4 linked regions of the Homo sapiens genome follow. The protein of the gene in region 2 purifies or fractionates together with the protein of the main gene of each other region. This does not show direct contact. Each region holds a gene or a part of one and is shown on either strand. Other genes may lie near its edges.

Evidence for each region.
Region 1: the proteins of NOP53 (region 2) and GLYR1 purify together in Homo sapiens (affinity purification with mass spectrometry; 2 studies listed by BioGRID and IntAct, with this or other methods). This does not show direct contact.
Region 3: the proteins of NOP53 (region 2) and ZC3HAV1 purify together in Homo sapiens (affinity purification with mass spectrometry; 2 studies listed by BioGRID and IntAct, with this or other methods). This does not show direct contact.
Region 4: the proteins of NOP53 (region 2) and PUM3 purify together in Homo sapiens (affinity purification with mass spectrometry; 3 studies listed by BioGRID and IntAct, with this or other methods). This does not show direct contact.

The regions. Positions count from the first base shown.
Region 1 is NC_000016.10:4,809,282-4,816,302, forward strand, and holds part of GLYR1 (cytokine-like nuclear factor N-PAC), read right to left. Parts: intron 5,367-7,021; coding exon 5,256-5,366; intron 4,675-5,255; exon of another isoform or gene 4,558-4,674; coding exon 4,456-4,557; intron 2,968-4,455; coding exon 2,805-2,967; intron 2,522-2,804; coding exon 2,342-2,521; intron 2,014-2,341; coding exon 1,889-2,013; intron 1-1,888. UniProt on the Homo sapiens protein: Cytokine-like nuclear factor with chromatin gene reader activity involved in chromatin modification and regulation of gene expression. Acts as a nucleosome-destabilizing factor that is recruited to genes during transcriptional activation.
Region 2 is NC_000019.10:47,748,525-47,755,545, forward strand, and holds part of NOP53 (ribosome biogenesis protein NOP53), read left to right. Parts: intron 1-1,653; coding exon 1,654-1,762; intron 1,763-2,383; coding exon 2,384-2,583; intron 2,584-2,995; coding exon 2,996-3,066; intron 3,067-3,987; coding exon 3,988-4,083; intron 4,084-6,002; coding exon 6,003-6,107; intron 6,108-6,184; coding exon 6,185-6,367; intron 6,368-6,823; coding exon 6,824-6,999; intron 7,000-7,021. UniProt on the Homo sapiens protein: Nucleolar protein which is involved in the integration of the 5S RNP into the ribosomal large subunit during ribosome biogenesis. In ribosome biogenesis, may also play a role in rRNA transcription.
Region 3 is NC_000007.14:139,106,700-139,114,703, reverse strand, and holds the start of ZC3HAV1 (zinc finger CCCH-type antiviral protein 1), read left to right. Parts: upstream 1-4,983; 5' UTR 4,984-5,372; coding exon 5,373-5,680; intron 5,681-8,004.
Region 4 is NC_000009.12:2,820,090-2,827,110, forward strand, and holds part of PUM3 (pumilio homolog 3), read right to left. Parts: coding exon 6,984-7,021; intron 4,727-6,983; coding exon 4,628-4,726; intron 3,746-4,627; coding exon 3,692-3,745; intron 10-3,691; coding exon 1-9. UniProt on the Homo sapiens protein: Inhibits the poly(ADP-ribosyl)ation activity of PARP1 and the degradation of PARP1 by CASP3 following genotoxic stress. Binds to double-stranded RNA or DNA without sequence specificity. Involved in development of the eye and of primordial germ cells.

The sequences.
Region 1 (7,021 bases), on a different chromosome or scaffold from region 2:
CCAGGTTCAAGCAATTCTCTGCCTCAGCCTCCTGAGTAGCTGAGATTAAAGGTGCCTGCCACCATGCCCAGCTAATTTTTTGTATTTTTAGTAGAGATAGGGGTTTCAACATCTTGGTCAGGAGAATGAGACCATCCTGGCTAACACAGTGGAACCCCGTCTTTACTAAAAATACAAAAAATTAGCCAGGCATGGTGGCAGGCGCCTGCAGTCCCAGCTACTCAGGAGGGTGAGGCAGGAGAATGGAGTGAACCCGGGAGACGAAGCTTGCAGTGAGCCGAGATCGTGCCACTGTACTCCAGCTTGGGTGACAGAGCGAAACTCCGTCTCAAAAAAAAAAAAAAAAAAAATCATACAGGCAGCTGGTTGTGGTGGTTCATGCCTGTCATCCCAGCACTTTGGGAGGCTGAGGTGGACGGATCACCTGAGGTCAGCAGTTCAAGCCCAGCCTGGCCAACATGGTGAAACCTCATCTCTACTAAAAATACAAAAATCAGTTGTGTATGGTGGTGTGTGCCTGTAATCCCAGCTACTCAAGAGGCTGAGGCATGAGAATCGCTTGAACTTGGGAGGCAGAGGTTGCGGTGAGCCGAGATCGCGACACTGCACTCCAGCCTGGGCGAAAGAGCAAAACTCTGTCTCCAAAAAAAACAAAAAAACAAAAAACAAAAAAACAAAAAAAACCCAATACAGGGCAGGGCATGTTCTTTGATCATAGAGCAGTAAGTTAAAAATCAATAATCATTAGATATCTAGGAAAACCCAAACACTAGATAAACTTTTAAGTAATTCATGGATCAAAGAAGAAATCAGAAAACAAATTAACACGGATTAGTGGACATTTAAAGATTTATATACTCATGTTATAAAGAAAGCAGGATTAAAATAAATGATTTAAGATTCCACTTTAAAGGGTTTGAAAAAGAACAAAGAGGCCAGACACAGTGGCTCACACCTGTAATCCCAGCACTTTGAGAGGCTGAGGCAGGTGGCTCTCCTGAGGTCAGGAGTTGGAGAACAGCCTAGCCAACATGGCAAAACCCCATCTCTACTAAAAATACAAAAATTAGCAGGGCGGGTTGGGGCACGCCTGTAATCCCAGGCTACTTGGGAGGCTACTTGGGAGGCAGAGGCACAAAAATCTATTGAACCCAGGAGGCAGAGGCTGCAGTGAGCTGAGATCACACCACTGCACTCCAGCCTGGGCGACAGAGTGAGACTCTGTCTCAAAAAAAAGAAAAAGAACAAAGAAAAGCTAAACTAAGTAGAGGGAAGGAAACGATAAAAGAAAAAGAAACTTGGCCAGGTGTAGTGGCTCACACCTGTAATCCCAGCACTTTGGGAGGCCGAGGCGGGCAGATCACGAGGTCAGGAGATCGAGACCATCCTGGCTAACATGGTGAAACCCTGTCTCTACTAAAAAAAAAAAAAAAAAAAAAAAAAAAAAAAAAATTAGCCGGGCGTGGTGGCAAGAGCCTGAGGCGACAGAGCAAGACTCTGTCTCAAAATAAAAGAAAAAGAAAAAGAAAAAGAAACTGAATGGCTGGGCGTGGTAGCTCATGCCTGTAATCCCAGCACTCTGGGAGGCAGAGGCGGGTGGATCACCTGAGGTCAGGAGTTCGAGACCAGCCTGAACAACAAGGAGAAACCCCATCTCTGCTAAAAATACAAAAATTAGCTAGGCATGGTGGTGGGCACCTATAATCCCAACTACTCAGGAGGCTGAGGCAGGAGAATTGCTTGAAACCAGGAGGCGGAGGTTGCATTGAGCTGAGATCGCACCAGTGCACTCTAGCCTGGGTGACAGAGTGAGACTCCGTTAAAAAAAAAAAAAAAAGAAAGAAAAAGAAACTGAAGGGCCTTGGGGCTTGGGCCACATCTACCCTACCTCATTTGCTGCAGCTGCCATGGGAGTCGGATGGTTGACCGCATCACCCAGCGCAATGGCTAAGCGGAGATCCTTCTGAATGTATTTCAGGTAGAAATCAGGCTTAAAGTTTCCTTGCAGGATATCTGAGGAGAAAAAGCCAGTATCAGACAAAAGCCAAGGACCTGAAACTAAAAACTACTTACGGTCCACCAGGTGTCAGTACCTAAAACATACTCAGGGCTCAGTTCCACATAGCCTAGGCCTCTTGGCTCCTCACTCACCCTTAGACACCTGAGGGCTGCAGCTCCCAGCCTATATCCCCAAATCCCGCCCACTGTGTTTCTGAACCTCCTCTGGCCAGGGTCAGGGACTGACTGGGGAGGGGCATCTTTCACGCTCACTAAATCCCTGACCTAGTACCCTGCTCTAATCAAACACCAAATGCAAGAAGAGGGGCCAAAAACAACTCACTTTGGCACTTCTGGTCCAGGAAGATGCTGGCCAACTGTCCCTGATTGAGGATGTCCAAGAGTGTCTGCTGGGACTGGCCTGTCACCTGGGCCAGGGTCAGCCCCTCGGCAATAGTGGCCATGAAGCTCCCTTGGACCATGTTCACGATCAGCATCATCTTGGCTGCATTGCCCACTTCACCTGCCCAGGGTAAAGACTCACGGTCACAGCCCAAGAATGCCACAGACAGGGCTTCTCTGTCCACCCTCACCTCTGCTCAGACCCACCTCTCTCCAGGGGAGGCCCCCTTCACCTGCCCCCGACAGACTGGCTCTTCCTCCTTCCACGCACTGACTATGCAGGTGAAAGGAAACCTTCCCCAGGGTCCCCGGCAGAAAGGCCGTGTGGGACTGACGCTGTCATCAGTGTGAAACAGAGGAGATGTGGCCCCAGGCTCCAGGCCTGACAGGTGCAGGCGTGTTACCTAGGAAGAAGGAGGTCTTCCCCATCGCCTGGAAGCAGCTGCTGCAGTCCTCATATAAGCCCCTGTCTCCAGCCGCTAAGATCACCAACATCCCGTCATTAGACAGCTGCTGATTCCCTGAGACGGGGGCTTCCAGAAAGCGCCCCCCCCTGGACACAATCACCTGGAAAGAAAAGTCACAGCTTCTGGAGGCCTCCCCTCTCCCAGCGCTCTCTGGGCAGGACTCAAGGAGTGTTGCTGAGTGGCCACGGCTGCTCATCACCTTCCAGAGCTGGAGGGGACGGCCACCCATACCAAGGTCCTTTAGCTGACACCTAAACTCAGGAGCTAACCATGTGCAGGTCACACAGGCCGAATCACAGCAGTGATGAGACGCTGGGGTCTCCACACAGGAACCCAACTGACTTGGAATTTTTTTTTTTTTTTTGAGGTGGAGTCTCGCTGTCGCCCAGGCTGGAGTGCAGTGGAGCGATCTCGGATCACTGCAAGCTCCGCCTCGCGGGTTCATGCCATTCTCCTGCCTCAGCCTCCCGAGTAACTGGGACTACAGGCGTCCACCACCACGCCTGGCTAATTTTTTGTATTTTTAGTAGAGACAGGTTTCACCATATTAGCCAGGATTGTCTTGATCTCCTGACCTTGTGATCCGCCCGCCTCGGCCTCCCAAAGTGCTTGGATTACAGGAGTGAGCCACCACGCCTGGCCGGAATTTTTTTGTTTTGTTTTTTTGAGACAGAGTCTTGCTCTGTTGCCCAGGCTGGAGTGCAGTGGCGCAATCTCAGCTCACTGCAAACTCTGCCTCCCGGGTTCATGCCATTCTCCTGCATCAGCCTCCTCAGTAGCTGGGACTACAGGCAACCGCCACCATGCCTGGCTAATTTTTTTTTTTTTTTTTGAGACGGAGTCTTGCTCTGTTGCCCAGGCTGGAGTGCAGTGGCACGATCACAGCTCACTGCAAGCTCCGCCTCCTGGGTTCATGCCGCTCTCCTGCCTCAGCCTCCCAAGTAGCTGGGACTACAGGTGCCCGCCACCGCGTCCGGCTAATTTTTTTGTATTTTTAGTAGAGATGGGGTTTCACCGTGTTAGCCAGGATGGTCTCGATCTCCTGACCTCGTGATCCGCCCACCTCGGCCTCCCAAAGTGCTGGGATTACAGGCGTGAGCCACCGCGCCCGGACTGGAATTTCTTAGAGACCAACAACTAGAACCAGATGTGACCATGTCAATGGCTCGGCTGAACACACACCTCCCCTGTGGATGCTGCCCTCCCCTCAGAACATATGTGGGTCCCAAAGTCCCCACTCCCTTATTTGGGCCAGATGCTCGGGGAGGAGGGATGCTTTGCCAGTGTCAAATGCAGACAGCTGCTCAAACCCCAATGCCAGGCGGGCGGCCTGGGTTGCTTCTCATCATAAGGCTGGCAGCTCCAGGACTTGATGCCCATCCCAGCCATGCAGCGACTGCCCATGGCTGTTCAGACTAGCTGCGGTTTGAAGGTGGAGCACGGGATAGGCTAGTCCCAAGGCTACTCGCCTCTCCTCTTCCCTCTCTGGCTTTGGCTCTAGAGTAACTTAACTGCCCACTCTTGTAAGCCTGGGTCTTGGGCTCTGATAGAAAAGATGCTGGAGAGCCAGCCCAAGGAAGGCTGCTACCTGGGCCAGCTCAGTGACGGTGTCAGCGTCCACTGTTGACATGTCCACGTAGCACTTCCCAGGGCGGATCCCTTGCAGCACACCACTGGGGCCCAGCACCAGCTGTGGGGACACAAGGGAGAAGCAATAGCCCAGGCTCCCGGGCAGATGCTCAGGAGCCCTACAGACCTCAGATCAGAATCCTGCTGCTGTTTTGGCTCATTTCCTGATTTCTATCAGCTGAAAAGGGAAGAACAATGAAATAAGCAAGGGATAGAAAAGTACTTCCCGCATGCTCCCATTTATCTTTAAAAAGAATCTATGTGAGTGTGTGCATTTCTTTTTATTTAAAAAAAAAAAAAAACAAACCCCATTTAAAAGAATAAACCTCAGCATTTACTTTGGGGACTTCTTTGGATTTACTTGGATTAGGCTAGTCACCAGTTTAATAAGATGACTACCACACTTGAACTTCTAAAATATACAAATACAGTGACAGCTAAACATAGAAGCTTGGCACCTGGACCAAAGGCACATTCAGTTCCAAAGCTTCTAGTTCAACAAGAACACATGAAGCCTGTTCAAGACACATTTCAGCACAGACTTCAAGGGCCCTAGTAGTGTTCATTCTTTGATCTGAATTAAAGGAAGTCTGTATTCAATTAATGCAAACACCCTTCACAATGGGAGATGGCCCCTGATGGGAAATTCAGCCCCCCACATGTGGACACTCACTTGGTGTGCAGGGGAGGAGGGGAAGAGGCCAGCCAGCAATCCTGGCTGTGACCCGGAGTTGCTGAGGGGAGGGAGGGGGTCCTTACGTCCTTGGCCGCCTTGGGATCCGACACGCAGGCGAAAGTGATGTCGCAGGTTGAGACGACTTCAGCGGGGGTTCTTCCCAGACGGGCCCCCTCCTGGATGAACAAATCACACTGCAAAAGTCACAGATCCTAACGTGAGCTGCAGGCAGTGCACAACAAACATGCCAGCCAGGCCAGAGAATTGCTGACCAGGCCTCCTGGCGGCCTACCAAGGCAGGAGGCTGAGGCCGGGAGCCTGGGTCATGGAGATAGGAGCCCAACTTTTGGGGAAGTGCACGGGGCCTTTTACTGGCCATCTTCAGTTTTTGCATGACGAGTGCCTAGGATGATGAACTGCTTCACAAGTGTCTGCTGAAGGTATGCTGTTTCAAGAATGGGGTATGAACAGTAGCACCTCTCCCCAGCCCCCGCTGTGCTGTCCTGGCTGTGGCCCTGAGCTATCAACACTCTGCTGGGAATGTGGGGATGTCGCTGGAAGCCTTCCACCTGGTGGCCATTCGTTTTTGGGTTGTTTCTCAACACTGTTGTCAGGTTAATAAGACTTCTGGAAGTGCCTAAAAACACTACCATTTTGGCTTTTTTTTTTTGAGACAAGGTTTTGCTCTGTCACCCAGGCTGGAGCACAGTGGTGCAATCATGGCTCACTGCAGCCTCAACCTCCTGGACTCAAGTGATCCTCCTGCCTCAGCCTCCTGAATAGCTGGGACTATAGGTGCATGCCCCATGTGTGATTTTTTTTTTTTTCTGTAGAGACAGGGTTTCACCATGTTGCCCAGGCTGGATGGGCCTACTATTTTCTATCAGACTTTTAATGTTGTTTATGATTCACATTTATCTATATTGTTGTCTTTCATAATTCTGGCATAATTATGGTTTATAGTGGTTGACTATGGAAAACTTCACTGAGAGATATACTGTGATTTACCTAATGGCTGACCTGTAGTTTGACACTTAGCCCACTTTCAATTGTAAAATCACATCACCAAACATCTTTACGTACAAAACTTCTCTATGTTTTAAATTCAGGTCTCCACAAATAGAATAAAACAGGTTCTAAAAGTTTTAAGGCTCTCAACAAATGTAGACAGATGACTTCCCAATGAGACTATGTCACTTCATAAAGATCACCAGCAAGCTCTCCTATTATGCCAGTACCAAGTATGTAATTTAAAAACTACAAATAAGTGCCCATAAATACATGTAAAATTCTTCCTACCTGATCATTTAACCAGTCAAAAAAGGCAACTGTTTCATTTTTTTTTTTTGAGACAGAGTCTCGCTGTCGCCCAGGATGGAGTGCAGTGGCACGATCTCAGCTCACTGCAAGCTCTGCCTCCCAGGTTCACGCCATTCTCCTGCCTCAGCCTCCCGAGTAGCTGGGACTACAGGCGCCCGCCACTGTGCCCGGCTAATTTTTCGTATTTTTAGTAGAGACGGGGTTTCACCGAGGTCTCGATCTCCTGACCTCGTTATCCCCCAGTCTCTGCCTTCCAAAGTGCTGGGATTATAGGCATGAGCCACCGCACCCGGCCTTGTTTGATATATTTTAATTACTCCTGATTACCGAATATTTTTTATGCCTTTGTTTCCTCTTTTGTGAGCCATTTTTTTGTCCTTTTTCTTTTCTGAGACAGGGTCTTGCTGCTGCCTAGGTGGGAATGCAGTGGTATGATCACAGCTCACTGCAGCCTCTACCTCCTGGGCCCAAGAGATCTTCTGGCCTCAGCCTCCCAAGTAGCTGGGACTATAGTAGGCAGGTGCCACCT
Region 2 (7,021 bases):
GACCTGGTTCAGTGACCAGATAGAGTGGAAGGAGCTGCCCTGAGGTACAGGAGACTTCCAATAGGCAGGTAAAAAGTGGTTATTAGAGTCTGGGTGCAGTGGCCTACACCTGTAAGCCCAGCGCTTTGGGAGGCCGAGGTGGGGCGGATCACTTGAGGTCAGGGGTTGGAGACCAGCCTGGGCAGCATGGCGAAACCCCGTCTCTACTAAAAATACAAAAACTAGCCGGACGTCATGGTACACGCATGTAATCCCAGCTACTGAGAAGCGCTTGAACCCGGGAGGCAGAGGTTGCAGTGAGCCAAGATCATACCACTGCACTCCAGCCTGGGCGACAGAGCAAGACTCTGTCTCAAGCTGGGCGTGGTGGCTCACGCCTGTAATCCCAGCACTTTGGGAGGCTGATGCGGGTGGATCACCTGAGGTCGGGAGTTTGAGACCAGCCTGACCAACATGGAGAAACCCCGTCTTTACTAAGAGTACAAAATTAGCCGAGCGTGGTGGCGCATGCCTGTAATTCCAGCTACTCAGGAGGCTGAGGCAGGATTGTTGCTTGAACCTGGGAGGCAGAGGTTGCAGTGAGCCAAGAGCGCATCATTGCACTCCGCTCCAGCCTGGGTTACAAGACTCTGTCTCAAAAAAAAAAAAAAGTGGGGGGTTATTAGAGAAGTCAGCCTTGACCGAAGTGAGTTGATCTGGTGTGTGAGTGTAAAGGGTAAGTCAGTGACCTGCCCGTAATGAACAGATGGGAAAGTAGTTACCGGCGTGCTTTGGCGAGTGGGAAGCCTCTTTGGGGGGCAGGAAAGAGGCAGTTTATGGGTTCCACTTTAGTAAGGAAACACGGACAAAGATCATAGTGGTTGTGAGCAGTCAACCAGGTCAGCCCCTGTGCTTTGTGGGCCTTAAATGATTACATCTTCATAACGGCCTAGTGAGGGAGGTATCCACATCCTCATTTTGGGGGCACGGAGGAGCTAAGCCTCTTGTGTGAGGTCCCACAGTCCATGCAAGGGTGTTATTCCATTCTAGAGTGTTTTGCTGTAGAGTTACTGCTTTTAACTGTTAGGCTTTTGAAGTAAAAACCACAGGTATCTTTGTGGGAGGAAAAAGACAGTAAAAACCAGAGAACTAGAAGTTATGCTGAGAAGTGGCCATCCTGGGTCCCAAGTCCACTTCTGTGGCCCTCCCTGGGCTTCAGTGTCAACTGATGACTTGCTTTCTTCCTTTTTTTTTTCCCCCTGAGATGAGATCTCACTATGTTGCTCAGGCTGGCATCAAACTCCTGGGCTCAAGCGATCCTCCCACCTCAGCCTCCCAGAGTGCTGGGATTACAGGCGTGAGCCACCATGCAGGGAAGAGGTTCCCTGTTTGTCTGGAAGACCCTCCTATGTGGCTGTGGGCGTGACTCTTCGTGTCCCCAGCATGGGGCCTGCCTCCTGCTGGCCCAGCACTTGGTTGTGGAGGGTCAGAGCTTGGGCACCTTGGGCCCCATCCTTAGGGGCCTCTACCTCCAGGTAGGAGCCTGGGGACCTCCAAGTCTCCTGGGGTGACTTGGGATTCAGGTCTGATGGCTCCCATGGAGGTGAATAGGGTGGGTGGTCTTTGGCAGTGGGTAGGGCTGAGGCCTTGACTTGTTCTCTTTCCCATTCTTAGGGCTGACAAAGAAGAGAACCAAAGTCCAGAAGAAGTCACTGCTTCTCAAGAAACCCCTTCGGGTTGACCTCATCCTCGAGAACACATCCAAAGTCCCTGCCCCCAAAGAGTGAGTGTCCCAGCATCCCTGGGCCCTTCTTTCCCACCAGACTCTGGTCCTAAAGGGTTTCCGGGGCTGGGGGCTGGTAGGTGAGGGTCATTTGAAGGGTAGGGCAGGCTCAGGTTTGGGCTTCGGAGTGCAGATTAGAGGGAGGGAGTCTGGGTGCCCTGGTGCTGGGCCGAGGCAGGTGAGGAGGGGCCTGGACCCAGCTGGGGGCTTCGGGGTTGGAGAGGAGGGGCTGAGTGGGAGGCGTGTTCAGGAGGCACATCAGGTGGGTCTTGGGGCATGAGCGGGTGAGAGGGTGGACAGCTGGCCTTCCCCTGAGATGGGGATGTGGAGGAGTGGGATTTCGGGTGATGCTGAGGTTGGTTTTGACGTGGTGGTGTGAGGTGCCTGGGGTATGTCCAGGACGGGGCTGTTGCTTCGTTGAGTCTGGGGCTCAGAGGGGAGGCCTAGGCTGGAGACAGACGTGGGGAGAGGAGTTCTCTGAAGAGGGGGCGGAGTGCCACCTTTTGGAGAGGGGGTGCTGAAGCTGCCTTAATGGTGGAGGAAGCCCGACGGGGAGGAGGCCCTGCTGCCGTTCAGGCTGCCACCTCACCTGCTGCACTTGTGCCCCCTCTCCCCGACCAGCGTCCTCGCCCACCAGGTCCCCAACGCCAAGAAGCTCAGGCGGAAGGAGCAGCTATGGGAGAAGCTGGCCAAGCAGGGCGAGCTGCCCCGGGAGGTGCGCAGGGCCCAGGCCCGGCTCCTCAACCCTTCTGCAACAAGGGCCAAGCCCGGGCCCCAGGACACCGTAGAGCGGCCCTTCTACGACCTCTGGGCCTCAGACAGTGAGTGATCCTGCTGTCACCTATGAATGGGGACAGGACGGCCATGTGCAGTTTGTGTGTGTTGTGCACTGCACGAGAGTACAGTGTGAAAGGGAGTGCTTTGTGGGTGCTTTGGTGACCTCCCAGCAGAGTCGTGCGTCCTGAAGGGGCGGCCGTTTCCCACTCGTGCTTTTCCTTTCCTGAGTTGTGAGGCTTCAGGAAAGGAAGCCTTCAGCTTTGGTCTCTTCCACTTTCTGAACCCGTCCAGACACAGTTTTGTCCTGGTGATCAAGGCCCTTGGGGTCTAGAATCAGTCCTTCCCTTGCCTGAGCTTCAGGGTCACCTTTTTGAAATGTGGAGGGATTGGGGGGGAGCCTTTGGTGCCTCTTCCATGCTGGGACTGTCCCAGCAGCTCCCCTCGCTGTATCCACAGACCCCCTGGACAGGCCGTTGGTTGGCCAGGATGAGTTTTTCCTGGAGCAGACCAAGAAGAAAGGAGTGAAGGTGAGATGTGTGGGAAGGGCATCCTGGGTGATGGGAGGGTGAGGAGGGCCGGGAGCTGCTCTGTGTTCCTGCAGTAGAGTCTGTCTCAGAGCCCTTCCATCCCAGTGGCCGAGAACTCTGTGCTGGAGCCAGGTGGCTGGGATTCCTGTCCCAGCTCCAGTGCTGACTGATCCTGGGAAGGTGGTCTCACCTTTCTGCAACCTATATCTTCCTCTAAAATGCAGATGAGGGCCGGGCATGGTGGCTCACGCCTGTAATCCCAGCACTTCGGGAGGCCGAGACAGGTGGATCACCTGAGGTCGGGAGTTTGAGACCAGCCTGACCAACGTGGTGAAACCCTGTCTCTACTAAAAATACAAAAAAAAAATTAGCTGGGCTTGGTGGCACGTGCCTGTAGTCCCAGCTATTAGGGAGGCTGAGGCAGGAGAATCGCTTGGACCAGGGAGGTGGAGGTGGCAGTGAGCCGAGATCATGCCACTGCACTCCAGCCTGGGCAACAAGAGCGAAACTCTGTCTCAAAAAAAAAAATAAAATAAAATACAGATGAAATTGTACTTAGATCATGGGTCGGTGGGGAGAATGTAAAGAGGTAGCACATGAGAAGGTGGAGCCCGTGCTGGCAAGTGGCAGAAGTGTCACGGGTTTGAGTTTGGATTTGCAGCCTCCTTCTTGAGCTGCTGGACCCCAAGTGTTAGAGCCCAGGTGCTTACAATCTCCGGGGCTCAGCCTCGTGGGTAGCAGAGGATAGGCTGCTATCCTTTTTCTGAGATGGAGTCTTGCTCTGGAGTCACCTGAATGCCCCTTGAGCTCTTCCCACACCCAACCACTGGCAAGGCCTGGAGCATCTGCCCCATGGCTGTGTCCTGGGTCACCCGCAGCCCCAACGCACGGCCTTACCCTGCCTCGGCCTTTTCTCCACAGCGGCCAGCACGCCTGCACACCAAGCCGTCCCAGGCACCCGCCGTGGAGGTGGCGCCTGCCGGAGCTTCCTACAATCCATCCTTTGAAGACCACCAGGTACACTGCCCCGTCCAGGCCTCCCTCCTCAGTGGGCTCTGCCTCTTGGTCAGGCCTTCACTAGCTTCCTCCCTGTGCTGGGAACTCCAATGACCCAGACAGCCCTGGGCCTGTCCGCAACGGGGCTCACGGTCCAGTGCAAGAGACCTGTTCCCAGACAGTGATGGGCAGAGTGGTTGGGGCTGGGAGCCCAGACGGGGCACCTGGCCCAGCCTGGGGGGTCAGGAAGGGCTCCCGGGAGGAGGGGTCGCCTGAGCCGAGGCAGAGGCTGAGGGAGGGGTTTGCAGTGGGAGGAGGGGAGTGGGTTTTCCAGGTGGTGGGAACAGCACTGCAAAGGCACAGAGTTGAGAGAGACCGTGGCGCCTTCCAGGAAGCCTGTGGGGCAGAGATGAAAAAGGCTGTGGTGACACGGTGGCACACTGGCAGCCAAGTGACAGTTATATATGGGCGAGGCTAGCTCAGCGATGGGAAAGTCTAGCTGGAGCCACTGTGCATTTAGCGGGCATCTGTTGAGCACAGATGCTGTGGACAAAGGGGACAAAAACCCCTCCCTTGGCCGGGTGCGGTGCCTCACACCTGTAATCCCAGCACTTTGGGAGGCTGAGGCGGGCAGATCATTGGAGGTCAGGAGTTGGAGACCAGCCTGACCAACATGGTGAAACCCTGTCTCTACTAAATACAGAAAATTAGCAGGGCATGGCAGCACGCATCTGTGGTCCCAACTGCTTGGGAGGCTGAGGTGGGAGGATTGCTTGAGCCCAGGAGGTCCAGGCTGCAGTGAGCTATGATCGCACCACGGCACTGCAGCCTGTGTAACAGAGCGAGACTCAAAAAACAAGCACAACCCTCCCTCAAGGAACAGCCCTTCTCATGGGGTCACGTGACTGGAGAGATGCTGAGATGTTTGCGGTAGATGCAGGACCGCTTGTCCGAATCGTTTTCAGCATTCATAAGAAGGAGATAGCTAGCCAGGAACAGAGGCAGCTTCCTCATCTGGTAGAGAAAAGTGTCTGCGGAAAAAAGCAACAGTGTGCTCATGGTTGAAAGCGTGAGGGTGCCGCTCACTGCCATCTGTTCCTGGACCAGATGTGGGAGGGGGCGTGGAGATCAGACATTCACTTTTAGATTTGTACAGAACTACTTCGTAGAGATAAAATTCACTTAACCATACGGTCAGCCTAGTTAGAGTATGTGATTCAGTGGCTTTTAGTGACCATTGTGTAACCATCCCCGCAGTCAATTTTAGAACATTTTCACTGTCCGTAAAGGAAACCTCACACATGTCAGCCATCACCCCCGCAATTCCCTGTCTCGTGTGGTCTTGGGCTGCCAGGCTTCCTGTCTCAGGGACCAGCCCACCCTGACCAATTCACATAGATGAAACTGTGGGCCGGGCATGGTGGCTCACACCTGTAATCCCAGCACTTTGGGAGGCCGAGGTAGGTGGACCACCTGAGGTCAGGAGTTCAAGACCAGCCTGACCAACATGGAGAAACCCCATCTCTACTAAAGTTACAGAATTAGCCGGGTATGGTGGCACATGCCTGTAATAGTAGCTACTCGGGAGGCTGAGGCAGGAGAATCGCTTGAACCCAGGAGGCGGGGGTTGTGGTGAGCTGAGATCACACCATTGCACTCCAGTCTGGGCAACAAGACAGAAACTCTATCTCAAAAAAAAAATGTGAAGCGTGCAGGTCAGACTGCCTTCACAGACGTGCAGAGCAGGTGTGAGGGCGAGGGTTTGAGGTGCCCTCTGGCTCTGTGCAGGGTGGGTGTGCTGGTAGACGGGGTGTGGGGAGGAAAGCCTGGGCCGGGGCGGGATCCACGGGCACTGGATGAGGGACAGATGGGAGGTAAGAGGGTCTAGTCTCAGTGTCCCAGGAGGGGTTCAGGGACCCATCCTCACTCCCGCCCCTCAGACCCTGCTCTCAGCGGCCCACGAGGTGGAGTTGCAGCGGCAGAAGGAGGCGGAGAAGCTGGAGCGGCAGCTGGCCCTGCCCGCCACGGAGCAGGCCGCCACCCAGGTGAGCCCCGCACCTGCCCACTCCCTCCCCTCCCCGGGCCTCCTACCCACCCCTGACACTGCACCCCGCCTCCCCAGGAGTCCACATTCCAGGAGCTGTGCGAGGGGCTGCTGGAGGAGTCGGATGGTGAGGGGGAGCCAGGCCAGGGCGAGGGGCCGGAGGCTGGGGATGCCGAGGTCTGTCCCACGCCCGCCCGCCTGGCCACCACAGAGAAGAAGACGGAGCAGCAGCGGCGGCGGGAGAAGGCTGTGCACAGGCTGGTGAGCGCCTGGGCCAGCGGGGCCTGCCTCTGATGCCTCGCCCCCTTCCTTCCTTCCTCCCACCATGGGCTGCCCTGGGTGCTGCGGGCAGCCTGCACACCCCAAGCCCCGCATGTGGCCTGTGGTTTGGGCTGTTTGGGATCCTCACAGCTGAGACTCATTTCCCAGCCTCTTCCAGGCAGGGCTCGGGCTGGGGTGGGACAGGGTCCCTGGCGCTTCTGTTTGAGGGGCGGGGTGGGGGGAGGTTTCTGCACCGCAGACCAGGGGAGATGGATGACAAAAGGGGCTTCAGCAAACAGCTGCTGGGAAGGCACTGGAGGGGCCGCTGATGTGACGGGGTTAGGAAGGGCCTCCGGGGACAGGCAGGTTTGTGCAGGGAAGGCTCCCTGTGTAGAGAGAAGGTCTCCCTGTGTGGGCAGCACCGGCCTGAGCCCTGACCCTCCCCCGTCTCCACAGCGGGTACAGCAGGCCGCGTTGCGGGCCGCCCGGCTCCGGCACCAGGAGCTGTTCCGGCTGCGCGGGATCAAGGCCCAGGTGGCCCTGAGGCTGGCGGAGCTGGCGCGGCGGCAGAGGCGGCGGCAGGCGCGGCGGGAGGCTGAGGCTGACAAGCCCCGAAGGCTGGGGCGGCTCAAGTGAGAACCAGGCCGGGGGTTC
Region 3 (8,004 bases), on a different chromosome or scaffold from region 2:
CCCCAGCCTCACCTGTGGTCATGTGAGGGGGTCCCATATAACCAGCTAAAGGAGGAGGGAAAAAGACCAAGTTTGCGTTAAGGATGGGCTAGCTTAATATGTGGGTACAAGCTGAAAATGCATGGCAGCTATATTACAGTCTCACTCAGGGAAGTCCTTGAAAAACAGTGGTAAGGGAAAATCTCCCCAGCGGGAGGAGCTTTGAGAGTGTACCTAGTCATCACTTCGTATGGAAGGAGTATGGCCTAGGGTTAGAACATACATGGTCTCATGGGCAGTGATGGTGGCCTGGCTGGGAGTTTGGGAGCCTAAAAGTAAAAGGAAGCATATGAATAGATGTATGGAAGTGGGCAGTTCATATCACATTAAGACCCACAAAAGATGTGCCAACTACACAAAATAACTTGGCCAGTTAATGTTGGCCAGGCTTAGTGACAGGCCCCCTCCCCCACTGCTGCTCAAAGAGGCCATGGTGGCCAGGAGATGGAAGCGATGCAAGAACCTAACAGCATAGATTATCATTTGCCAAAATAAACACAGCTACTGCCACCTCTGAGTGTCTGATCTGCCAGCCATAAAGACCAATGCTAAGCTCTATTCCTTAAGGAGACCAATAGACTACTTGGGGACCAGTAGACTGCATCGGGCCCCTTTTGTCCTGGCAGAACCATCGGTGGTTCTCACAAGAAGAGGCAGTTATTCTGGATTTGGGGTTGCCCTTCCTCCCTGCAGAGCCTCAGTAGTAGCACTCTTTTTTTTTTTTTTTAGATGGAATTTCACTCTTGTTGCCCAGGCTGGAGTGCAATAGTGCGATCTCAGCTCACTGCAACCTCTGCCTTCTGGGTTCAAGCGATTATCCTGCCTCAGCCTCCCAAATAGCTGGGATTACAGGCGTGTGCTACCACACCCGGCTAATTTTGTATTATTAGTAGACACAGGGTTTCACCATGATGGTCAGGCTGGTCTGGAACTCCTGACCTCAAGTGATCCCCCTGCCTCAGCCTCCCAAAGTGATGAGATTACAGGCTTGAACCACCGTGCCCGGCCAGTAGCACCACTTTCTGGAGACTTAAAGATTGCCCGATCCACAGACATGGAATCACACTTAACATAGCATCTTATCAGGTGAATCTTTTCATGGCACAGAAAGTGGAGGGAATGAACCCATGAACATGGTACTATCCATGGTCCTATCATACACTTCACCACCCAGTAGCTATAGGATGAAGTATTGGAATGGCTAGTTAAAGATGGAGTCAAGCACCAGAATGGAGCTGATACCCTACAATGATGACACAGACTCCAGAACATCGTGGTATATGCCTTGAATCGGTCAAGTTAGTATGGTACTGTGTCCATACATGAGTCTGGAAAGAATGGGTAAGCCTGAGTGGCCCTACTTAGTATAATTCCAATGACCCCCTGCAATTTCCTCTCCCAGCAATGCTGGGCTCTGCAGAGTTATAGGTCTTGGTTCCCCAAAGGGGCACACTCTTGCCTGGAGATACCACAGAGATCCCACTGGACTACTGTGATGGCTGTCACCAGGTACTTTGGCCTCCTAATGGTCAGAGACTAGCAAGTAAGAAAGGGAATGGCCATCTTATTCGAGGTAACTGTTGCTGGTCAGCAGGAGGTGTGGCTGTTGTTACACAATGTGGGCAGGTGGAATATGTATGGAATTCTGGTGACCTATTTTGGTGTCTCTTGGTAATCCTTTGCCCAGCTGGGACTGAGATGTGCTCAGACCACTTTCAAATAGGGCACCCGACCAGATTAAGCTACTGAGAGCAGCTGAGGTGGTGGCCAAGGGTGAGAGGGATTGGAATGGATAGTGGTAGAGGGATATGATGAGGACCAGACCACCAGCTGTGGCCTTGAGACCAACTGCAGTGACAAGGACTATAGTTCATTCCACTAATTTCTCTCTGGTAAGCTTCCTTGTAGGAAGAGTGACCCTGAAAAGCCTGTTCCCTAAATACAAATGGATAAAGAAAGCCATGTAGTACAAAGGGTGGACTACAGCTGACACAGGGTGGCACTCAGGTCAAGCTTGCAGCCCAGCTTTGAGGAGCATGTTTAGCCAATATCCTCCAGCTTTAGCTCTTTCAAGATCTGCCCCAGCATTCGAGCTGAAGTCATCCACTTCTCTGGTGGCCCCCACCGGTGACTGAGCAAGGCAGTACAAGGGCCTAGCCTTTTCTGTCCAAAGCTGGACTCCTACTCCAGAGCTCCTCATTGGGCTGGCAGAGACTTTGTTAGGTCCGCACAAAAGTCTGATAGGCCCCATGGATCAATCATGCTTTTTCCTTTGACTTTTTCTGGCATTATGCCCCAGAAAAAGTGCAGAGAAAGTTCTGCACTCTTAACTCCATGTCAGGATCTCCTTCCTGGAGAACCCAATCTCTGATGGCACATATTTCAAAATTTTTCAAAATGTCTCCTTTTCCCTTCCCAGAACTCCTTAAATCACCTTTCTCTTTCACTTTCCCTTTCTTTTTTCCTTTCACTTTCCCTTCTTTTTTCCCCTTTTCCTTTTCCTTCCTTTTTTTCCTTTTCCTTCCTTTTCCCCTTTCCTTTCCCTTCTTTCCTTTCCCTTCCTTCCTTTCCTTTCTCTTCCTTTCCTTTCCCTTCCTTTCTTTCCTTTCCCTCCCTTTCCCTTTCCATTTCCCTTTCTCTTTCATTTTCACTTTCCCTTTCCCTTTCTCTGTCACTTTCCATTTCCGTTTCCCTTTCCCTTTCCCTCTCTTCCCTTTCCAAAAGGATCTTCCTCTGTTGCCTTTGCTGGAGTGCAGTGGCACAATTGTAGCTCACTGCAACCTTGAACTCCCGGGCTCAAGAAATCCTCCCGCCGCAGCCTCCCAAGTAGTTGGGACTACAGGCACATACCACTATGTCTGGCTAATTTTTATTTTTAGTGGAGATGAGGTCTCGCTATGTTGCCCAGGTGGATCTCACAGTATGTTGCCCAGGATGGTCATGATCCTCCCGCCTTGGCCTCCCAAAGTGTTGGGATTACAGGCACAAGCCACTGCACCTGGCCCTTAAATCATTTTTCATGGCTTCAAATTGGAGGAGATTCTATGTCTGTACTCCCAACCACTGTAGCCAAACTAGACTCTTCAGTCTCTCATCTTCTATATTCCCATTGTGGCATTTACCCATGAATTTGCTTATATTTCCATGCATTTTTTCATGTCTTCGCATACATGCTCCTTGAGTGCAGGGACTGTTTTTTAAACTTCTGCATGTCCTTACATTACTAACTAATGTAAATACCACATAGAAGATAGTCAATAAACATCTAGAACTTAGTTGATTTGATAATAAAAGGTCCCTGGGAACCTGTCAGACCACAAATAAGGCCAAGTGGATTAAAAGACAACTATAGAAGCAGCAACTAGAGGGAACAAGATGTCCCTCTTAGACATCCTAAGATGATCCTATGTGGCCCCCATGTTTGGCTGGTTTTCATAACAAAGTACTCTATTCCTGAAAGAGGGTTTATATACCATGAATGACAAAACTGAGGAGAATTCTCATTAATCATTTTGAAGAATTTCTAAGTTAGCAACCAGAATCTATTATTTTTTAAAAAGATGTATTTCTTATCTGATCAAATGACCCATCTATTTTATTTGAAGATGTTGGAAAAAAAAACCTTTTTTCTCTTCAACTTGTGTCCTGTCTTTGGGGGCCTAAAAATTAACTGGCACTAGACAGATAAATAGGAGAAAAGACAAAGTTTATTTACACATGCATGCAGGAGCTTCCAGTAACAGAAAACTCAAAAGTAAAGGTTTATATACCTCAACTTAACAAAAAGGAAAGTTTTAGGGCTTCAGTAGGAGAGTTTGGAAGTTTTGATTGGGTTGTTTTGTGTTTTTGAGACAAAGTCTCAGCGCTATCCCCCAGGCTGGAGTGCAGTGGCACAATCCCGGCTCGTTGCAGCCTCCTCCCGTGCTCAAGCAATCCTCCCACCTCAGGCTCCCGAGTAGCTGGGACTGCGGCTGCACACCACCATGCCCGGGTTGTTTTTATTATTATTATTATTATTATTATTATTATTATTATTATTATTATTGAAGAGAGCTCACTATGTTGCCCAGGCTAGTCTTGAACTCCTGGGTTCAAGCAATCCTCCCACTGCCTCGGCTTCCTAAAGCGCTGGGATTACGGGCTGAGCCACAGCACCCAGCCCATTGGGTTTTTTGGTGCTAATGGTAATGGGACAGTCTGTCTTCCTGGCAGCTGAATACTCCGAGAGGCTTTTAATGGCACCATGTTTTCGGGAGGTTTTGCTTTAGTCAGATAAGGGAAGTTTCATTAAGATTTCTTTCTACATCTTCTGTAGCTCAATGTTTTCACTTAAAAACAATCTTTATGTCAACTCTGGGGGTCAAAGTACGTCCCCACGGTGGAAAAGTTCTTGTCCCAATCTCTACGGGGAGGAACCGATCTGAAATCTTGGGATATGTCTTAGCATGTCCACCGTGATTGAGGTACAAGCAGTGGTTCAGGGCACCGAGTTAGCGATTCTAGGTAAGCAAGACCATGTCAAGAAGTGGTTTGTCCAAAAGTTCGTGAGAAGGCAGAAACGAGGGAGAGTGGCAATCGTTGTTCTTTAAGAGGGCACGGTGGTGGAGGAGAAACTTGCACATCGGGGCCTGGGGTACCACGATCTGGGGCCTGGGGACGCGATTTGGGGAAACTCGGTGGCATCTGGGCTCCGCTTGATGCCAGTGCGTGTTCGTGCAAGTTACTTCCTCAAGTTCAGGGTGAGGATAATAATATCTACCATGTGGAGTTGCTGGGAAGATTCACTACCAACAGAGGCAGAGCGCACGGCTCGCAGGAAGCGCTCGCTAGGGTCTGCTCTTTCCGGGAATGGGTGGGGTGCGCACTCCTCAACAGGGCTCTCAGGACTTGCGTCACACGCCTCAGTCGGCTGGCTTATAAAACACCGGCCAGAGCCCCAAGATCGCTTTTAGTTTCTCTTCTTTCTAAAGAAGGCTCGCGGAGCCCGGCTGGAGAACCTCACCCTCGCCGAGCCTAGAACCGAGAGGGGGCCACCCCAGGCGGTCACCAGCAGATTTGCCCGCGCGTTCTCTTTCTTTCCACCCAGTTGCCCTTGCGGCCGGCTGTAAACCTGCCACTAGGACCCGGTCGGTGAGATCTAGCCTCTTGACCTGAGAGCCGAGAGTGGATCGCTGGGCTGGGCTAACGGCGACGGAGAGCGCGCCCTCGCTGACTCCGGGCGCGCCCAGCAGTAGCACCGCCCGCGCCCGCCCCTGGACACTTGTAAGTTTCGATTTCCGATTTCCGCGGAACCGAGTCCCGCGCCGCGGCAGAGCCAGCACAGCCAGCGCGCCATGGCGGACCCGGAGGTGTGCTGCTTCATCACCAAAATCCTGTGCGCCCACGGGGGCCGCATGGCCCTGGACGCGCTGCTCCAGGAGATCGCGCTGTCTGAGCCGCAGCTCTGTGAGGTGCTGCAGGTGGCCGGGCCCGACCGCTTTGTGGTGTTGGAGACCGGCGGCGAGGCCGGGATCACCCGATCGGTGGTGGCCACCACTCGAGCCCGGGTCTGCCGTCGCAAGTACTGCCAGAGACCCTGCGATAACCTGCATCTCTGCAAACTCAACTTGCTGGGCCGGTGCAACTATTCGCAGTCCGAGCGGTGAGTGCACCCGGAGGGAGGGGCGCTGTCCGCAGCCGTGGTCGGGGTGGACTGTCCAGGCGGGCAATGTTCTGGGAGGGGCACGGCTTCGCCGGGACCCCGCACCTGACAGCCTCCGCCTCCAGCCACTCCCTTCTCTGCTCCCCTCTGGGAGCCTCTGCAGGGCCCGCGCTTCTACCTTTGCAGTTCCCTTCCTTCCGGCACCTCCAGACATTTTCTCGAGAATGGCTAAAATGCTAGTGCCTGGAGGAGACCAGGCTCAACCTCCACCCCTTTCCCCGCCCGCCCGCACGAATCAGAAGAATAAAGTGCTCTGGAGCCAGCCAGGGCCTAGAGAAGCGGTAGGCAGGTTTGGGAAGGAAGGAAAGAGCCTCCCGTCTTTGGTATCTTGAGTCTTTCCCTCCCTACTACCTCCTTCCCTAGACGTGGCGGAGCCAGTAACCCAGCCGCCCTGGGCCCCCGGTCCGTCTCCGCCGGAGCGAGCCGCAGGTCTCTCTGCTTGTCCCTCCCTTCCCGGTCACCCCCATGCCCCTCATCACCGCTTTTCTGATGCCTGGCGCGTAGCAGGGGTGGCCCTTTTCCAGGTTCCTGAAGTTGTAGCAGCCGCGGGCCTTCCCTCCGGGTGGTCTCTCTACGGTGGCGCGCGCAGTTGACCGCCTGCCTTGGGACAACTCTCTTAAATCCCTTTGAAGCAGTGTGGCTCACGTCTCGGGCCACTGCTTCTGTTGTTTCCGTTTGCCTTTTTTTTTTTTCGTCTAAATGCAGATGCGCTGCAAGGTTTGGGTTAAGACTCTTGAGTGATTTTCTTCCCAGTTTCTCCCTAAGAGAGCTTGCTCCCTCGAGGACAGCTGCACATCTAAAAAGATGGCTTCCAGGTCCACATTCGCTGCCCAGGCCTTTCCCTTGATCCCAAGCCCTTCCTCTCCCGCGTGTGTCCTGTCCATGGAGTCAAACTCATCTTTTCCCCCAGGCAGGGTTTTAATCCTCCTCACAATCTGTCATCACCAAGTCCTTTTTGTGAAGTCTCTTTCCCTTCTTGGCGGATTCTGCCTTCCCATCTAATTTCTGAATGAACTGAATGAACGCCTTGTTGAATTAATGAATGGCCAGTCTTTCCTCCCACCCTTTCTGTCACTATGTGCTCTGCTCAATTACTTTTCTCGATACAGTACTTTTTACACTTGGCCCATTCTTAAACACTTTGACTTGTGTCCCAGGGTTTAAAATGGTTGTCAGCAAACTTTTTAGGCTGGAGTGCAGTGGCTCCACCTCGGTTCACTGCAACCTCCACCTCCCAGGTTCAAGCGATTCTCCTGCCTCAGCCTCCCGAGTAGCTGGGATTACAGGCATGCACCATCGCACCCGGCCAATTTTTGTATTTTTAGTAGAGACAGGGTTTCACCATGTTGGCCAGGCTGGTCTCGAACTCCTGACCTCAGGTGATCCACTTGTCTCAGCCTCCCAAAGTGCTGGGATTACAGGCATAAGCCACCAAGTCCGACCAGTCGGCAAACTTTTGATCACGCACCTAACAAAAACTCCAGTCACTCACCCCCAATATACGTGTAATAAAACACACAAAGGTAAGTGTTTTAGATGGATGAGGTAGAGGACGCAATGTATTTTTTTAAAAATTTCTTTAGAGCAAAAACCCTTTCAGCTCACTCTAACGTTTTTAAAAAGTGCTTGAATGTGTTCCTTTATTTAAAATTTTCTTTAATATGTTGTGGGGCAACAATTTGAAGGTTGTTTCTGAGTTGCTGGGAGTTATGGGTATCGAGGAAATCATCTAAGTCATTGCTGGTCACTGAAGAAATCTCTGAGAAGGAGAAGAGAGCAGAGGGTGGAGGATAGAAAAGGAAGGAACATTCTAGCATGTTCTAGCACTACACCAAATAACATGGTTGGAAGGCTTTGTTATGTTTTTTCTGTTCTTATCTTTTCTATTATGACAAATTCTTCACCAACTAGTGTTGATTTTTAGTATGAAATACATATGCTTTTTATTTTTTTATTTCTTACTATGGATATTTTCAACATACTCAAAAGTAGAGAGAAAAAAATGATGAAGCCCCTTGTACCCATCATTTCAACAGTTTTGAAAATATGGCCAGTTTTGTTTCATTTATTCTCCCTATTCCCCATGTGTCCCCAACTCCAATGTGTTATTTTAAAGCAAATCTCAGCAACCATTTGATTACTAAGTACTTTAGTATCTCTAAAACATAAGAACTATGTTTTATTAACATAATACAGTACAATGATCACATTTTTGTAAAAAAAATTACAATTTTAATATCATCTATTGTCCAGTTGGTATTCAA
Region 4 (7,021 bases), on a different chromosome or scaffold from region 2:
GTATTGGCCCTGCAAGAATTGGAAGCCAGCAAAGGTTAAAAACAAGTGCATAGATCTTCCCTCTTATTTCACACATGGAATATCTTCATAAAGGTAGAGCGAGACTCCGCTCAAAAAAAAAAAAAAAAAAAGATTACCTACATTGACAACTTGTCTAACATAACAAGATGAATAAAAGCCATTTTAATGAACTTCCTCTCTTATCACGACCTCATTAATTATATTCTAGAGGTAAGGTTGATTTTTTTTTAAAGCACATTATTCATTACCAAATAGTCTAAAACTAATACCTATTTACATAGGTTACTGTTAATGAATAGCTACTTGAAAATTATACTTAAAAGTTCAAGTTATAAGATTAACTTCAAAAAACCTACATATATAAACACATATATGATACTCCAATCATGAAAAAGAAAATATAAACTCATACAATTTTACACACATACACACACACACACGATATACATAATACATGTACACAGAAAATCCTGGAAGGCAAGGCATTGTAATAGTCATCTCTGGGTTATACAAATGATTTTTAATTTTCTTTTCTATATTGCTCAATTTCTTTAAAGTGATCTCACAAAATTAGAATATAAATATGAAAAAATAAACTAGAAGAGTATAATTATACACTGAATGAGAATGATATAAAAATCATTACTTTAAAAAAAGTATAGCTGCATGAGATCACAGAAATACACATGTGGCTTTCACAACACTCATCTTTTGAAATAAAATTATTTCCATGATGCTAATACTGTTCCAAACATTTAAAGAACACCTACTTTATGTTAAGAACAAAAACAAAAGAAAACAAAAACCTGTTTCCAGAGCTTGTGGCATGAGTATCCTGGATGTTGATATAATTGTTTCAAACTCTGATAGGAATTTGATTTTTGATAATAGCCCACAATCATTCAGAGCCAGATCTGATAAATATCACAGATAATACAATTTCAATTAGAAACAATAACGAAGTTGCTAACTGTAAAGTCAAAAAGACAAACTGAAGACAAACAACAAAGGTCTTACTATACAAAGACCAACAACCAACTAAAAATGGGCAAAGCCAGGTGCGGTAGCTCACGCCTGTAATCCCAGCACTTTGGAAAGCTGAGGCTGGTGGATCACGAGGTCAGGAGATCGAGACCATCCTGGCTAACAGGGTGAAACCCCATCTCTACTACTAATACAAAACATTAGCTGGGCATGGTGGTGGGCGCCTGTAGTCCCAGCTACTCAGGAGGCTGAGGCAGGAGAATGGCGTGAACCTGGGAGGCGGAGCTTGCAGTGAGCCCAGATCGCGCCACGGCACTCCAGCCTGGGCGACAGAGCAAGACTCTGTCTCAAAAAAAAAAAAAAAAAAAGAACATGAAGAGTCAGATCACACTAAAACAGAAGTACAAATGTCTTTAAATGTATGAAATAATGCTTTATGAACTAATTAAGGACAATAATTAAAACAATGAAATGCCATTTATCCTATGGGTGATGGTGAAAACCTCTGACAATAGACTAATTTATCAAAGGTTTAGGGAAAAGCAGGCACGCTTTTATGTTGATGAGAATGTAAAGTGGTTCAACTTCTTTGAAGAGCAATTGACAACACCTATACAAATTTAAAATGCAGGTATGAGCTGATCCAGTGATTCTAGTTCTAGGGATTTATCTTGCAGACGTGTTTCCATGTAAGTACAAAGACTTACATATGAATATATTCACTGGGGTACTAATTGTAATTTTAAAAACTCTAGAAACTACCAAAATGCCCAACAGTGGGGACTGGTTAAATAAATTATGGTATAGGCACACGATGAAATATTACAGTCACTAAGAAAAGTGAGGTAGACAGATGTATGTATATTGAAATAAAATGACCCATAATATGAATTAAGTGAAGGAGACAAAATATAGAACAACGTGCCTAGTACAAAATCACTGGTTTCAGTTCTCTTAACTCGGACACACATAAGCATAACCAAGCATAAAATATTTCTAGGTGAATACAACAGAAGGTGGTACAGAATTGAATGTAAGTGAGAAACAGACAAATCCACAAGTATAGTTGGAAATTTTAACATGTTTCTCTCAGCAACTGATAGAACTAGAAAATAATAAGTCAGTAAAAACACTGATGGTATGAACACTGTCAACTACTTTGATCTAATTGACAAATATAGAATACCCCACCAAACAACTCTACAATATATTATTTTCAAAATACTTAGACCATATGTTAGGCCATAAAACAGGTCTCAGTAAATTTAAAAGGAACAAAAGAATATAGAATATATCCAGAAACCCCCAATATTTGGAAATTAATAATTCCAAATAATCCATGGATCAAATCCATGGGTAACGTTAGCTTATCACCCCTTTAGAAGTAACTCTTCGAGATTTAAAAAGATATGTACTTAGTGTTAAATTACCTGACATAAACAAACTGTAGAACTAAAACAATATAATTTTATTATTTTAAAATGTTATACTCTTAATACCTTTGTGAATTTTCTATTAACATTCTAGTTTTTACTCATTTTAATGTAAGGTATTCAAATTAGAATGTCACGCAAAAAAATTTACTTAATATTGAATTATGAATTATAATTATGAATTATATTTATATTTATAACATAATAATATAATGTTATATAATATATAACATTATAATTCATATTATAATTATGAATTATGAAATATATATGAATATTGAATTATGAATTATAAAAAATATGAGAATTCCATATTTCACTTTATTATAGGAACGTTAGCTGCCTTCTGAATTCTTCTAATTTCTAGCCCAACAGAAGACAATAGTCAAGTACACAATCACACAGCATTAATTTTAACTTGTTTGATTTAGTATTTCAAACAAGTTGAAGTATTCCCCAGATGCTAGTAGTTCTCACTGGATGTTTTCAAAGGATAAAGTAGTTGATTACTACATAATTTTAGTTCATCAATAAATTAGAAATTTGTTATCCATCAAATATATAAAGTATAACTCAAAAATTAAAATTGTATTCACTACATATATTCTAGTTACAGTACACCATAGCAACAGCATGAAAAATTATTTAATAACTAAAAACATATAAACACTATTTTTGAAGCAACAAATCCCCCAGAAAAAACTTTTGTACCTATGAATTTCATTAGGAAAATTGTTACTGCATTTCTAAAGAGCTATAAAATTTAACAACTAAAAATTTCCATAACCACACTGCAAATTTATTCTTAAAAAAAAGATACATTTTAATTTCTTTTATGGTTTTGGTCATAAGGAAAACTACTATCAAGTTTCTGAAGTGCAATCTGGCATCATTTACCCAGAGACTAAAATATGTACATACTGTATCCAGGCAGTAATTCCCATATTTAATTAACATGACTGGACAAATTCACCAAAAAAGCTAGTAAATATCAGGTTTTCAAAGAATATCTAATAAAAGTAGAGAACTATCACAATACAATGTTAAATTAAAAAAGGAGAAAAGAATGCATGTGACATGATTTCCATTTTGTGTAGATAAAATATGAAAATACATGTAGATGCAAAGAAAAATATAATAAAACAATAATTTTCTGCTTGGTAATTTTCTGAATTTTTCCAAATTTTCTATAATAGACATGAATTCATCTTACTATCAAAAATAATTAGAATATGTAGTTTTATTATACTTACATTAGCCACCTTTTCAACATAAGTCTTCATTGTTTTCACAATCACTTTCCTGTCCTTAAAAAGGAAAGATTGTCTCACTGAATTTTCAGTTATGTATTAAGGGTATTTTGTAGTTAAACATTTTAATATAATATTTATTAAGTTTTCATTTGAGTGGCATATGTTTTCATTAGTAAAAATAATAGTTATACAGCCAGAACAAAAAAACTGTAATATACCAAAGAAGTTGGCTTAGAGCTATTACAAGCTTAGATGTGTATGTGATAGGGTTAGGGTTAGGGTTAGGGTTAGGGTTAGGGTTTGCAAGCCACCTTTCACAGTGAGACCAGACAGATCCTTCTTCCAAGGTCTAAACTGTCCTCAAATGCAGAGTCTAGCAAACAGTTAGTACTCATCTGCATTTGTTGAATAAAATTAAATTTGCATTAAAAAAAGTAGATATAGTACAACTATCTTTTAAAGGCAGAATTATGCTGACCAAGGAAATAATGATAATTTCTGTTAAACTTCTGTGATTAATAAGGATCTTTACCTTTTCCCTCAAGTACATAACACCTATGGGAGCAAATGTGTGTGGCCAGCTGTTTGTTATCTCTTCCCATTTTCCCCTGCCACAGTATGATCATTAAAAGAGGAGGTACCAAAACCTCTATAAACTAAAGCTTAAATACATATTATGTTTACTTGCTTGATAGATCTCTTCCCATCCTTTAATGAAACTTCAAGGTTTCTACTAAAGCAGAGGAAAGAAGAAACACTAGGCCTAAAGAAGATGGCTCATTCCCATCAGGCTCTAAGGCACAACTTTTGGAAGATAATGCACAACAGGGCAAAGACCAAAGGGGGTTAAAAGTCTAAGGACAGCTAAGTCAAGCCTGCAGATAAAGCATGGCCCTGACTTGTACAGTTTAAATGCCCAAGTGCTGTCACACTTACCTTGGGCGTGCCATGCCACAGGCAGTGCATGGCCACTCTGGCGCCATCGTGTGTGTGTGCCAGGTAGACCACCGCTTCGCGGATGGCTTCAATCATTTCCTAGGGAACAAATGCTGTCAGGAACAGGGCTCTGCTTTATTTTCTTCTTTCTACTGTTTTATCTGTCTGTCTACAGGGGGCAGTTATGCAGAGAGAAGGAAAGGAAGAGAGTGCCAGGTAGCAAACAATTTCATTTTGTAGACAATCAAACAGAAACACGAGCTCTTTCTAGAAATGTTCTTTTCCATCAAGAGCAGTAAATACTGCTGGCAGACAATATCTATTAAAAACAATACCTGACTTTTACCAATGTCTGTTAAAAAAAAGGTCAAGCTATATGTGTAATATAATATATTCTAAATAATTTTCCAAGAAAAAGAAGCCTAGGAGGTGGTGGTGATAAGAAGGGAGCTTTTAACAGAATAGCGAGACAAAGAAAATGCTCTTCCCCAAAAGAGACCTGTATGCAATAAACAGAATCAAAACACTCATTTTGACTGAAAAGCTTCCCTTTTCAGTTCATAACTGGATTATCTCCAAAAATCACATTCTTTACCATAAACACGCTTACATAACATTTCCTCATGAAAAATTTCTATACTAACATTTAGACTAAGACCTCACCTATAAAATGACCCTTTAGTAAAAAACATTTAATTTCTCACTAGGTAGCTTAGCTTAATTTAACCTTTAGCCTTCATTTTCCATGTATATAATTTCTTATTTACATTTTCTTTTTTTTTTGGAGACGGAGTCTTGCTCTGTCACCCAGGCTGGAGTGCAGTGGTGCCATCTTGGCTTACTGCAACCTCCACCTCCCAGGTTCAAGCAATTCTCCTGCCTCAGCCTCCCGAGTAGCTGGGGCTACAGGTGCCCGCCACCACCCCCGGCTAATTTTTGTATTTTAGTAGAGACTGGGTTTCACCATATTGGCCAGGCTGGTCTCGAACTACTGACCTTGTGATCTGCCCGCCTCGGGTTCCCAAAGTGCTGGGATTACAGGTGTGAGCCACCGTGCCTGGCCCTATATTTTCAAAGTCTAAGGCATGTAGGATGTAAATGAGTTCTGGCAACTAACAAGTGCAGAGCTCCATTTTAGTCTATTCCCAATTTAAAAATGTACATTAAATAAATACAAAGCCTCATGCCACGAAAGAGAGGGTAGGTGCCTAATTTCATCAATAAGGAACAAACAATTTCAGCCTCAAGTATCTAACAATCCCTTCCCAAGATGACTCTCAAGAGCAGTTTCAACTAACATATCTGAACTTAGGAATCTCTTCAGAGCTATCCAGATGGAAAGCCATGCATATATTCCAATTATGCTTCCATTTTCCCCGAAGGTTTTTTTTTTTTTAAGTCTCTTTTGAAAATGCCCCCAATACCAGAAAAGACAATTTGTCTCATTACTTTACACGCATGCTAAGTTCCAAATGATTTTTTGCTGTTACTGAAACATTCAACACTAAAAAGATACTTTCTACCACTGAATATATTCAAATAATCATTGTGTCATTTCTGAGCATATAGTCCTGCCTCAGAACCGTGGGATACTGTATTTTTCAGGAAGTAAGAAAAATCTCCAAAACAGAAGGTGCTGCTATGGTCATCAAACCATAAGCTTACGTGGGTGGCTACCATCAGGAAATTATTTTGCATGCCAATTTTAAGAGGGTCAAAACTCCAATGAATGTATAGTCTGGCGTTATTTGTTAAGTCAGTCTCATTATTTTCATTATCCCTTGTGATTGGAAAATGAGGACAAATGGACAATGAGCTCACTGTATGATGAGGCAAGCAAAGTTCAGGGAACTAAATGATGAATTCTCATTTGTATTCCCATGACTGACTTGAAGGGCAGTGCAATTTACCTTCACTCTGTTCTTCTATGATATAAAGTCCAGGTTTTCATCGTCCACTTAGTTTTACAAACATATCCTCCTCTAACCTTTTAATGCCAAGCTAATTTTTTTTTTGTATTAGCACAGTTGAATTTAAAACTATCCGAATGCTTGAATATTCCTCCACGAGTTAGTTAATTTTCAGATTAGGTTAGCCAGCGGATACTCTCTGGATTATAATTAAGATATAAAAATTTAATATGATTAGTAAAACTAGGGTCAATTCTATTGTTTACTGGAATAAAACCTAAATGGAATTAGCAAACGTGTTCAAAGGGAGTTGAGTAAATTATCTTCCCTAAATAAGGAAGCAACTCTAAAATTTCCACAAGACAACGTACATCAAAGCAGTTTTTCAAATTTCTACACCGCTCCTCCTCCATGTTTTAGTTTAAAAACAAAAACCAAGAACTTACTGATCTGAGTTTGGGGGGTGCATAGGTAAAAAAGTCCA